Homo sapiens: one gene and its partners. The protein of the gene in region 1 interacts with the protein of each later gene in a pairwise test. Each region holds a gene or a part of one and is shown in the gene's direction. Other genes may lie near its edges.

What was found.
Region 2: the proteins of NPAS2 (region 1) and HESX1 interact in a two-hybrid assay, tested with the Homo sapiens proteins (one large-scale study listed by BioGRID and IntAct).
Region 3: the proteins of NPAS2 (region 1) and RHOXF1 interact in a two-hybrid assay, tested with the Homo sapiens proteins (one large-scale study listed by BioGRID and IntAct).

What each region holds. Positions count from the first base shown.
Region 1 is NC_000002.12:100,966,639-100,970,138, forward strand, and holds part of NPAS2 (neuronal PAS domain-containing protein 2), read left to right. Parts: intron 1-1,642; coding exon 1,643-1,790; intron 1,791-3,500. UniProt on the Homo sapiens protein: Transcriptional activator which forms a core component of the circadian clock.
Region 2 is NC_000003.12:57,197,731-57,201,560, reverse strand, and holds HESX1 (homeobox expressed in ES cells 1), read left to right. Parts: upstream 1-1,582; 5' UTR 1,583-1,642; coding exon 1,643-1,799; intron 1,800-2,608; coding exon 2,609-2,808; intron 2,809-3,068; coding exon 3,069-3,170; intron 3,171-3,265; coding exon 3,266-3,364; 3' UTR 3,365-3,723; downstream 3,724-3,830.
Region 3 is NC_000023.11:120,113,762-120,117,591, reverse strand, and holds the start of RHOXF1 (rhox homeobox family member 1), read left to right. Parts: upstream 1-1,678; 5' UTR 1,679-1,685; coding exon of another isoform or gene 1,686-1,729; coding exon 1,730-2,127; intron 2,128-3,830. UniProt on the Homo sapiens protein: Transcription factor maybe involved in reproductive processes. Modulates expression of target genes encoding proteins involved in processes relevant to spermatogenesis.

The sequences.
Region 1 (3,500 bases):
GCTGGAGTGCAGTGGCGCAATCTCGGCTCACTGCAAGCTTCACCTTCTGGGTTCAAGCAATTCTCCCACCTCAGCCTCTAGAGTAGTTGGGATTACAGGCGTGTGTGCCACCACGCCCAGCTAATTTTTTGTATTTTTAGTACAGACAGGGTTTCACCATGTTGGTCAGGATGGTCTCAAACTCCTGACTTCAAATGATCTGCTCACCTCGGCCTCCCAAAATGCTTGGATTACAGGCATAAGCCACTGTGCCTGGCTAGAACTTTCTCTTCTGTGGAGAGGGAAGGAAGAATAGGCTTGAGTTCCATCTGGATCGGCTGTTAGAATTTAAAGCTAATCATTAAAACTGTAACTCCTTGCTCCTCAAAGCGTGGTCTAGGACCACACTGCATAGGCATCACGGGAAGTTTGCTACACTTGTAGAATCAGGCCTACTCAGAGTGTCTATTTTAACAAGATCCCGAAGTGAAGAATTACATTCAGCAATTGAAAGGCTTCTCCATGGCTTGGGCAAGACCTCCTTGCCCTGTGGAGCCCACACCCTCAATCTGCTGGGCTTATCTCCTCTTCAGATAATCACATTCTCCAAGTCAGTGTCCTTTTTTTTTTTTTTTTTTTTTTTTTTTGAGACAGAGTCTCACTCTGTCACCCAGTCTCGGCTCGCTGCAAGCTCCGCCTCCCGGGTTCACGCCATTCTCCTGCCTCAGCCTCGTGAGTAGCTGGGACAACAGACGCCCGCCACCACACCCGGCTAATTTTTTGTATTTTTAGTAGAGATGGGGTCTCACCGTATTCGCCAGGATGGTCTCGATCTCCTGACCTCATGATCCGCCTGCCTCAGCCTCCCAAAGTGCTGGGATTACAGGCATGAGCCCCTGTGCCCAGCCATCAGTGTCCTTTTGTAGCGTTAGTTTCCTAGTTGAGATTTCTCTTAACCATTTACCTAAAGAGGTGCTAAGTTCCAGGCACTATGGCAATAAAACCCAAATCATTCTTCTTCCTTGGATCCGTAGTCCATCTTTCTGCCCTGCCCAGGCTTGATACACCATCAGCATCCATTCTGCTCTGGACACCCCTAGAAAAGCCACCAGCAGACATCACTATGGGGGGGCTGCAAGCAGCTCTGGGGAAGGGGGAAGCCTGGGGTGGAGGCATCTGTCCCCGACTCTTTATTTGAGAACTGTGTCGACTGGGCATGAACTGCTGACTGGCAGCCACAGAATCCGTCCAGAGGTTGCTGGCTGGCAGGTCTGTTTTCGGGCCAATTCTGGATGCTCTCTCCTGGGCTCCTGCAGCTCCAAAGACAGCTCTGCCTGCGGCGGGAGGATGAGCACCAGGCAAACCTGAGCCTCTGTTTCATTAAACCTGCAGTTTGAAAATCTGTCTGCATCTGCCCTTATCTGAGGATCTCTTTAAGCGTCTGAGCATTTGGGAAAGTATATGGATCACTCTTCCACTGTTTAAGAATTCACGACAGTGTACCGTGATCCTGACAGTCACTTAAAATACAGGGCAACCGGGGAAACAAGCCATGTTTGGTATTGTCTTTTTTTTTGAAAGCTTATCTTTACAATAACTCTTGGGGAAAAGATCATTTTCATATTAACATTGGTTATATGCGGAATCCATTTTCTACCGACAGTGATGCAGTTTGGCAAAGGGAAGTCGTGTTGCTACCGGTTTCTGACCAAAGGTCAGCAGTGGATCTGGCTGCAGACTCACTACTACATCACCTACCATCAGTGGAACTCCAAGCCCGAGTTCATCGTGTGCACACACTCGGTGGTCAGGTACCGCGCACGGGCAGGGGTGCGGCTGCGTCCTTGTCGCACCTGGGGGAGGGGTGCAGGATGGCGTGGCCCCTGATGGCCAAGTCAGATCAGCAGTCACTCAGGTGTTCCCCATTTCGAAGATGAAGCCCAGGCCATCCCCTGCCGTTAACAGCACAATTCCCAGAGCTCAGCTCGCTTCCAGGCACCACTGGCTCTGCCCTCCCAGGGCTGAGACTCCTTTCAAGCTCTCAGTCAGGCCCCTTTGAACGCCTCATGGACTCTCGCAGGCTGCCAGGATATTACTTAGTAAGTGACTGCTTCACTGACCTACTTACATATTTTCCCATCTCTATCCAGCCCACAGCCTTCCCTTGTTCCTGCTTTGAGTAGAAAATTTAAATTTTACCTCTAAATAACTCAAACACATATTCCCCTTTATTTTTAATGCTTTAAAAACCCCTGCTGGCAACTGAGGCAGTGTTGGGAAAACAGCCTGGCTGCCAGTGGGCGCGGGTTCCTGGGAGGTCCCTGCTGGCCTCAGGGAGCCCTCCACCCAGGGCGGGTGAGCAGGACTTTAAAGAGACGCGGCATGCCCAGGGTTTCATAGATGCTGCCTTTGTGGGGTCACTGTTCCCAAGGATGAAGGGGAAAATGGTCTTCTCCCCGACTACGGAAATTTTAAGAACGTAAATTAGTTTTAAGCTGGCCTACAGAGGAGCCTTGGAGAAGGGCAAAGAAAGAAAAGTTGGAAGGACAGCATGCCTTTCTTTTTTTTTTTTTTTAAACTTTAAGTTCTGGGATTCGTGTACAGAATGTGCAGGTTTGTTACATAGGTATATATGTGCCATGGTGCATGGTGCCATGCACCTATCAACCCATCATTTAGGCTTTAAGCCCTACATGCATTAGGTATTTGTCCTAATGCTCTCCCTCCACTTGTCCCCTACCACCACCCCTGTCAGGCCCCGGTGTGTGATGTTCCCCTCCCTGTGTCCATGTGTTCTCATTGTTCAACTCCCATTTATGAGTGAGAACATGCGGTGTTTGGTTTTCTGTTCCTGTGTTAGTTTGCTGAGGATGATGGCTTCCAGCTTCATCTATGTTCCCGCAAAGGACATGAACTTATTCTGTTTTATGGCTGCATAGTATTCCATAAAATTAGAAAAACCTACTTGAAATTTCATATGCATTTCTTATATACAGCCACTTGCTGCTTGATGATGGATATGTTTTGAGAAATGTGTCATTAGGTGATGTTGTCATCATGCAAACACCATAGAGTGTACTGGACACACCTAGATGGTGTGGCCTACCATACACCTTGGCTATACCGTATAGTGTATTGTTCCTAGGCTACACACCTGTACAGCATGCTATTGCACTGAACACTACAGGTAGCCATAGCACAGGTGTAAGTGTGCACCTAAACGTATCTGAACACAGAAAAGGTACGGTAAAAATACAGTGTTCCAATCTTAGGGAACCACCAATATGTCCCATAAGCACATGACTATATATATGTAACAGACAGATGTAGACAGACAGACACTACACACACTCACACCATACATGTATCAGGTCACCAAATCAGCCATTCTTCCTTAACACGCAGAAGAGGGGAGAAACACTAGTTTTCAGCAGCAAATGACCCTGATTCTACTTGACCACACTTCATGCCTTCGCTCAGGGACTTGATCTTGGATTCCCAGCCTGCCACTGGGCGTGCAG
Region 2 (3,830 bases), on another chromosome or scaffold:
CACCCTGCACCACTGTGAGCTCTATGAAGGCAAGGATAGTATTTTGTTTTTTTCTGGTTCTGAGAAGGTGCTCAACCAATTGTGGAAGGAAATAATGAATGTCTCAAAGGAGAGAAAGAAAGCTGAAAAGGTCCTGTATTCTCTCGCTTCCTCCTAGTCGTCCCAGATTAAGATACCCCCCACCTTTGCACAATCTACATCTCAGCACTATATACAAAATCTCCATGAGGTATAAATGTTCACCGGTTTATTCATCCGCAGAATGGTTTTACACGTACATTTATAAATCCATATGCCTGTTGATGTTTTGCATGTGAGATCCTTTATTTACCCGAGAGCTTTCATCAGGAGGAATTTAGCTCAATATTTGTGAGATCATAATAGGATAAAAGCTGATGAAGATGAGCTCCATCCTATAGAGGCTATTTCCTCTATGAGTGGAGACTGTTTTTCCCTTCCCTGAAGGAAAGAACAGCAGTTGTTTAAATAATGAATAAAGCTAAGCACTTAAATTTATCTTCAGGAAGGTACTGGAAGAAGAGGAGGAGCAGAGTATAAAAACTACAAGTATACCTTTGCGGGGGGAACAGCCAGTTCAAAATCTTCCCAATCAGCAGTTATACTTTAATTTTAATTTCAAGTTTTCTTAGGATTATGAAATTAAAACATTCTGTTCTTGGTTATTTTCATAAGCCTTACCATCTTGAAAGACTCCATCCTCTGCCCATCCCTCAAAAGATCAACAGACGGAAATTTTTCTTTAGAAAGCAAACTATGTTCTTTTCTTTGAAATAACTGTGATAGAGAAATTATTCACTTTAAGTAGTCATGCTTCTAAGTTGCTTGAAGGTGATTACATATGAACCTTCATATAAACATGTATCTCTCTCATTTAAAAGAAAAGAGGAAGGAAAGGAATTAGCCCATTAATTATTTAAAATACTTGGTGCAACTGTTCCTATGAATTAATCCAGGCACTTGGAAGACAATTACACTCCATGTTAATAACATTGCCAACCTTTTCCACTATGCTGCACTCCAAATACTATTGTGTTTTCATTGACAACATTCCCTATTACATATGCATATGAAAAACAGGCATTTTCATCAGAATTACTGTAATAGCATTAAGAGATTATTATTTTTTCCCATTTCCTTGGAAGAAAATTTACTTAAATTAGATTATTTATTACTCGACTGCTCTCGTATCTTGCCTGTATGTTTAGGTAACTGGAGCCCATGAAAGTATAAACTTCAGAATAAAAAGCTTGATTTTATACATTAATGATTTCAAATAAAAGATAAGTGCCACATTTGTGCATCACTTCTTTAGAGAAAGTTAAGTCTGTGTTCTGCTTAGGAGAGATAACACTTTTTGTCCCTGTAGGTGGCCCCCCTGGTGTAGCCATTAGTTGCTAATTACTTGCAAACAAATAAACAATTAACTCCTTAAGCTGCTGGCTGGGCAAGTGTTCATTGACATGCTAAAACTTTCTAAGACAGGATTTTAATTAGTGACGTTCTAAATCCAGCCCCCTTGTCAGCGGAGCTATAAGGTGAACTGCAGGAAGATCCCAGCCCTATACACGTGGGGCAGAGCCAGCAGAGGCCAGAGCTGTTGCTCTGTGCAGACCACGAGAGGATGTCTCCCAGCCTTCAGGAAGGCGCTCAGCTCGGGGAAAACAAACCCTCAACTTGCTCCTTTTCAATTGAGAGAATCTTAGGACTGGACCAGAAGAAAGACTGTGTTCCATTAATGAAACCCCACAGGCCCTGGGCAGACACCTGCAGCTCATCAGGTATGCCACAGCTTAATTGTTTCAATTCTTTGTTATTTCATTTACAGTGTTTAATTTGCCCTTTATTTCATACTACATAGAGCTAGAGTTTAGGACTTTAATTTAATTTATTATTATTATTTATTATTTTTTTTTTTTTTCTGAGACAGAGTGTTGGTCTTGTTGCCAAGACTGGAGTGCAATGGCATAATCTTGGCTCACTGCAGCCTCCGCCTCCTGGGTTCAAACGATTCTCCTGCCTCAGCCTGCCAAGTAGCTGGGATTACAGGCATGCACCACCATGGCCTGCTAATTTTTGTATTTTTTAGTAGAGGGGGGTTTCACCCTGTTGGTCAGGCTAGTCTCGAACTCCTGACCTCAGGTGATCCGCCTGCCTCAGCCTCCCAAAGTGTTAGGATTACAGGCATGACCCACCACGCCCAGCCAGAGTCTAGGACTTTTAATGCCTCCAACTGAGTCCTATGGGAAATTAAAAGAATATCAGCTTTGGATTGAGCAAAGTGGATAAATTCACTCACAGGAAATCCCAAGAACCTGCATTTACTTCAGAAGATCTCTCCCTGTTTGACACATCAGATATTTGAAATCTCTTTTCACTGAAAAATAAACGACATTCAGAGACCAAAGAGGCAGGATTACCAAGACAGGATCTTCATTTTTTATTGGTTTTTGGTTAACGGGGTGCAATTCTCTTGTGAACCCCAGAATTCCACTAGGAAATGAAAGATGAGTTCCTGAAACTACCTCTATAGAACTTTGTGGAACATAAGATTGACCATCTAAGACAGGGCTTATTTTTTTGTTTTTAGGGAAAGATGGTAACTTATGTCTACATGTCCCAAATCCTCCCAGTGGGATTTCATTCCCTAGCGTGGTGGATCACCCAATGCCAGAAGAAAGAGCTTCGAAATATGAAAATTACTTTTCAGCCTCAGAAAGACTGTCTTTGAAAAGAGAGTTGAGTTGGTATAGAGGCCGAAGACCAAGAACTGCTTTTACTCAAAACCAGGTGGGAAGTTTTTTCACCCAATAATGATAATATAAAGGCTTTAATTGACACCAAGTTGAGCAAAAGCCCACTCACTTTGGTATCTCAGTTTAGAAGCCTTATTAATGAAACAGTAGACTACCATATTTTAACAATTTCCAGGTAATCATTTTTAAAAAGGCATCCAGATTAATTGCCAAGATTTAAATGTAGTCATTTTACTCTAGAAATTAAAGCTCATTTTTGGAGACATACTGAATATCAACATTTTTTTTTCTTAGATTGAAGTGTTAGAAAATGTCTTTAGAGTAAACTGCTATCCTGGTATCGATATTAGAGAAGACTTAGCTCAAAAATTGAATCTAGAGGAAGACAGAATCCAGGTAATTTTCAAATTTAGTTGTTATTCATGATGTTGAAATGTTAAGAATAATAAAATAATGTTTCTGAGACCTATTTTATTTTTCCTTAACTTTAGATTTGGTTTCAAAATCGGCGTGCAAAACTGAAAAGGTCCCATAGAGAATCACAGTTTCTAATGGCGAAAAAAAATTTCAACACAAATCTGCTGGAATAGATAGAAAACTAAACAAGTGAAATTATCTTCTAATTGCAGAGCATGAAGAATCAGTGGAAATATTAAGTGTTAAAATGTGATGTTTTCTTTCCTGCATTTAATCTGAATATTGTCATTTTTTCTGAAAATATATTGTAAATACTATTATAGCATGGTACATATTTGGGCACTTTTAGTTATAGTAAAGACCTTTTATATATATTTTAATAAACATTTTCAGAAAAGATTGCTATTTTTTAAGTAAGCCAAATTAATCTAATAAATTAGTTTGTTAAAATCAATAGACTCATGACTAAGTGATTCCACAAGCTGGATTCTAATTATAAAGTATTTCAAGTAAAATAATCTGAAGAACAAAAGTGTGAGTTGTTTTCATTAGTTTCTTCCATGCACATTTTGAAACATAATTATGCTTCACTATATTATAAATTATGATTTATTCATGAATCTTCAACTTCTCTTGATT
Region 3 (3,830 bases), on another chromosome or scaffold:
AAGACGAGAGCTATCTCTCTTGGTAGGCTACAGACTCAAAGGGTCTGCATATTTATATATGCTGCCAAAAAAACCTCAAATAACCAATAGATATAAATAGATACAGAAAGTTTTTAAAAGAACATTTAAAAATAAAATTTTTAAAAATATTTTTAAAAAACAAAATAAAGTATATAACATCACTTAAGAGCACACACACAATCTCTAGAAAAATTAAGGATTCATGAGTTGTCCACCCTCAAAAGACATCTCCATGCCCTTCCTCATGACAGACTCTCTTAGCGCTTTCCTTTCTTTCATTTTCATTTTATTTCTTATTTTATTATTTATTTTAAAGAAAAGGGGCCTCTGTCTGTTGCCCAGGCTGGAGTGCTGCCATGTGATTCTAGCTCACCACAGCCTCAAACTCCTGGGTTCAAGTGATCCTCCCATCTCAGCCTCCTGAGTAGCTGGGACTAGTGCAGGAGCCACTGCACCAGGCTCTTCAGGGTTTTTCTTCGTAATTGGGCTTATTGGGGTCAGTGGTAGGAAGGCTGTGTAGTTACAAGGCTCTGTGGAGCAGAAGTGGCCCCACATCCAGTAAGCTGCATATCCTTAAATCCCAAATCTCCATCCCAAGATTGGAGATTTTTGGCAGGTATGCCCTTACTGGTGCTCTTCCTATACCATCCCCGATTTTATTTATTTATTTATTTTTTGCTTGTCCTTATAGCACTCCATTTTGCCATGAGTACAGGTTTCTCTTGCATAGCCAAAGATATTCAGTCTCAGGCTAACAGATTCAGCCTCGTGTTTATTCTGTGTTGACTTTCTCAAAGGGTGCGTTAGATTTCTTGCAGAGCACATCTTACCACCCAGAATGCTCTGCATGCCCATCTCCAAGATCCCGATCCCAGCACTGAAGAGAGCATGGCAGCTCTGCTTTCAGTGCCTTTGCTGGAACTCTGAACAAGCAGCCCCCAGTCAATCATTTCTGCTTAATTAATAGCCCGCGCCCTGTGCATGCTGCCAAATATGGAGGGTCAGGCCATGAGATATTCTCCAAACTTTTACTCAAGGCGTCCTATGGTCACCGTGAGATCTCACCTCCCCTCTGAGCCCCCAAATCAGCTTTCCTCAGGGTAATAACTAGGCCCGAGTAGGGTGTAGTCAGCAAAGCTGCAAGCTGGGGCCCCATGTTGCATACATATATGCCTCCTATTGGCCCTTTTCTTCTCCACACTGCCCCTGTGTTTTGGCCACCCCACTCCACCCTCAACTGCCACCCCCACCCACGACCCATACCACACCCCTCACCCCCACCCACAACCCCTACCCCCACCACGCACCCTCCACCCACACCTCCCATCTCCACCCGCTACCCCCACCCCCACCATGTACCCCCACCGGCAACCCCCACCCCAACCCACAACCCCTACCCTCACCCGCAACCCCCACCCTCACTGTGCACCCCCCACCCTCCACCCACACCCCCATCCCCACCTGCACCCCACCCCACACTCACAACCCCCCACTCCCACCTGCAACACCCCCACTCCCCACCCGCACCCCCCAACTTCCCATCCCCCCACTCCTCTCCATTCCCTCTCTTGCTTGTGCGCATAAGCAAGTCCCACTCATTGCAACTGTAACCAATACCAAGCATGAGAACAGGAACTAGCTCCACCCTCTAACCCCCACTCCAGCTGCAGACGCCACGGAGTTTGTGCAGGGGCGCAGCGCTCCAGCCATGGCGCGTTCGCTCGTCCACGACACCGTGTTCTACTGCCTGAGTGTATACCAGGTAAAAATAAGCCCCACACCTCAGCTGGGGGCAGCATCAAGCGCAGAAGGCCATGTTGGCCAAGGAGCTCCAGGCCTCATGGGTAATATGAACCCTGAGGGCGGTGTGAACCACGAGAACGGCATGAACCGCGATGGCGGCATGATCCCCGAGGGCGGCGGTGGAAACCAGGAGCCTCGGCAGCAGCCGCAGCCCCCGCCGGAGGAGCCGGCCCAGGCGGCCATGGAGGGTCCGCAGCCCGAGAACATGCAGCCACGAACTCGGCGCACGAAGTTCACGCTGTTGCAGGTGGAGGAGCTGGAAAGTGTTTTCCGACACACTCAATACCCTGATGTGCCCACAAGGTAAGTGGCCTGCTCCAGGAGCCACGAGATCTCCAAGTTCGTTTCGAGGCATCTTTTTCTCTCCCTTGCCCCACCCAATCATGAGGAAAAAGCCACTGGGGGTCCTTGCCTGCCTTTGTGCTGGTGTGGAGGGGGATATTTACCTCCTGGGCATCAAGGTAAATGTTTTATTGCAATGTTTATGTGAATGAAACCTGGAAACTAGTCCGTGCCTCCCTTTTATAAAGATGTGGTAAAATACACGGAAATATGAAATTTACCGTCCAAACCACTTTTTAAGTATAGAGTTCAGTTGTGTTAAGTATGTTCACATTGTTGTGCAATAGATCTCTAGAATTCTTCTCATCTTGCCAAGCTAAGTCTCTATACCAGTTAAGCAACTCCCCTTTTCCCCCTTTCCCCAGCCCTTGGCAACCACCATTCTACTATTTTATGTCTCTATGATTTTGACTACTCTAGGTATCTCATGTAAGTAGAATCATACAGTATTTGCATTTTTGTCACTGACTTATTTCACTTAGCATAAGGTCTTCAAGGTTCATCCATATCGCAGCATATATTAGAATTTCCTTCCTTTTTAAGGCTAAATAATATTCCATTTTATAGATACAGGTGCACACCAACAGTACATGGGGGTTCCAGTTTCTCCACATCCTCACCAACACTTGTTATTTTCTGGGGTTTTTTACATAGCCATCCTAATGGGTGTGAGGTGATACTTCATTGTAGTTTCGATTTGCTTTTCCCTAATGATTAGTGATGTTGTGCATCCTTTCATGTGCTTAGTGGCCACTTGTATATCTTCTTTGGAGAAATATCTCTTTAAGTCCTTTACCCATTTTAAAATCTGAGTGGCTTTTTCTTTCTTTCTTTCTTTTTTTTTGGTTATTGGGTTGTAGGAGTTCTTTATACACTCTGGATATTAACCCCTTATCAGATGTGATTTGCAAATATTTCCTTCCATTCTATGAGTTGTCTTTTTACTCTGTTCATTGCATCTTTTGATATACAGAAGTTTTAAATTTTGATATAGTCCAAGTTATGTATTTTTTCTTTTATTACCTGTGATGATGGCCTGTTTTTGTTGTTGTTGTTGTTTTTGTTGAGTGGGGGATCTGTCACCCAAGCAATCCTCCCATCTCAGCCTCCTGAGTTGCTGGGATTATAGGAGTGAGCCACCACACCCAGCTGTGGTCTGTTTTTATAAATAAAATTTTATTGAAATTGGGGTAAGGAGAATGAGGTACTGTCATGCAACTACAGTGCTAGATCCTTCCTTTATTTAAAATTTTGATAATTTGTTCATCATAGTTTTTTTTTGTTTGTTTGGTTGGTTTTTTGTTTTTCTGGTTTTTTTGTTTTGTCTTGAGACAGAGTCTCTCTCTGTGGCCCAGGTTGGAGTGCAGCAGTGCGATTTCAGCTCTCTGCAACATTTGCTTCCTGGGTTCAAGCCATCCTCCCGTGTCAGCCCCCTGAGTAGCTGGGACTGCAGGCACAGGCCACCACACCTGGCTAATTTTTGTATTTTTTTTGTGTGTAGAGATAAGGTTTCGCCGTGTTGCCCAGGCTAGTCTCAAACTCCTGGGCTCAAGCAATTTGCCTGCCTCGGCCTCCCAAACTGCTGGGATTACAGGCCTGAGCCACAGTGCCTGGTCCTCATCACAGATTTTTGCATTAATTGTTATTTATTAAAATAGTGCATT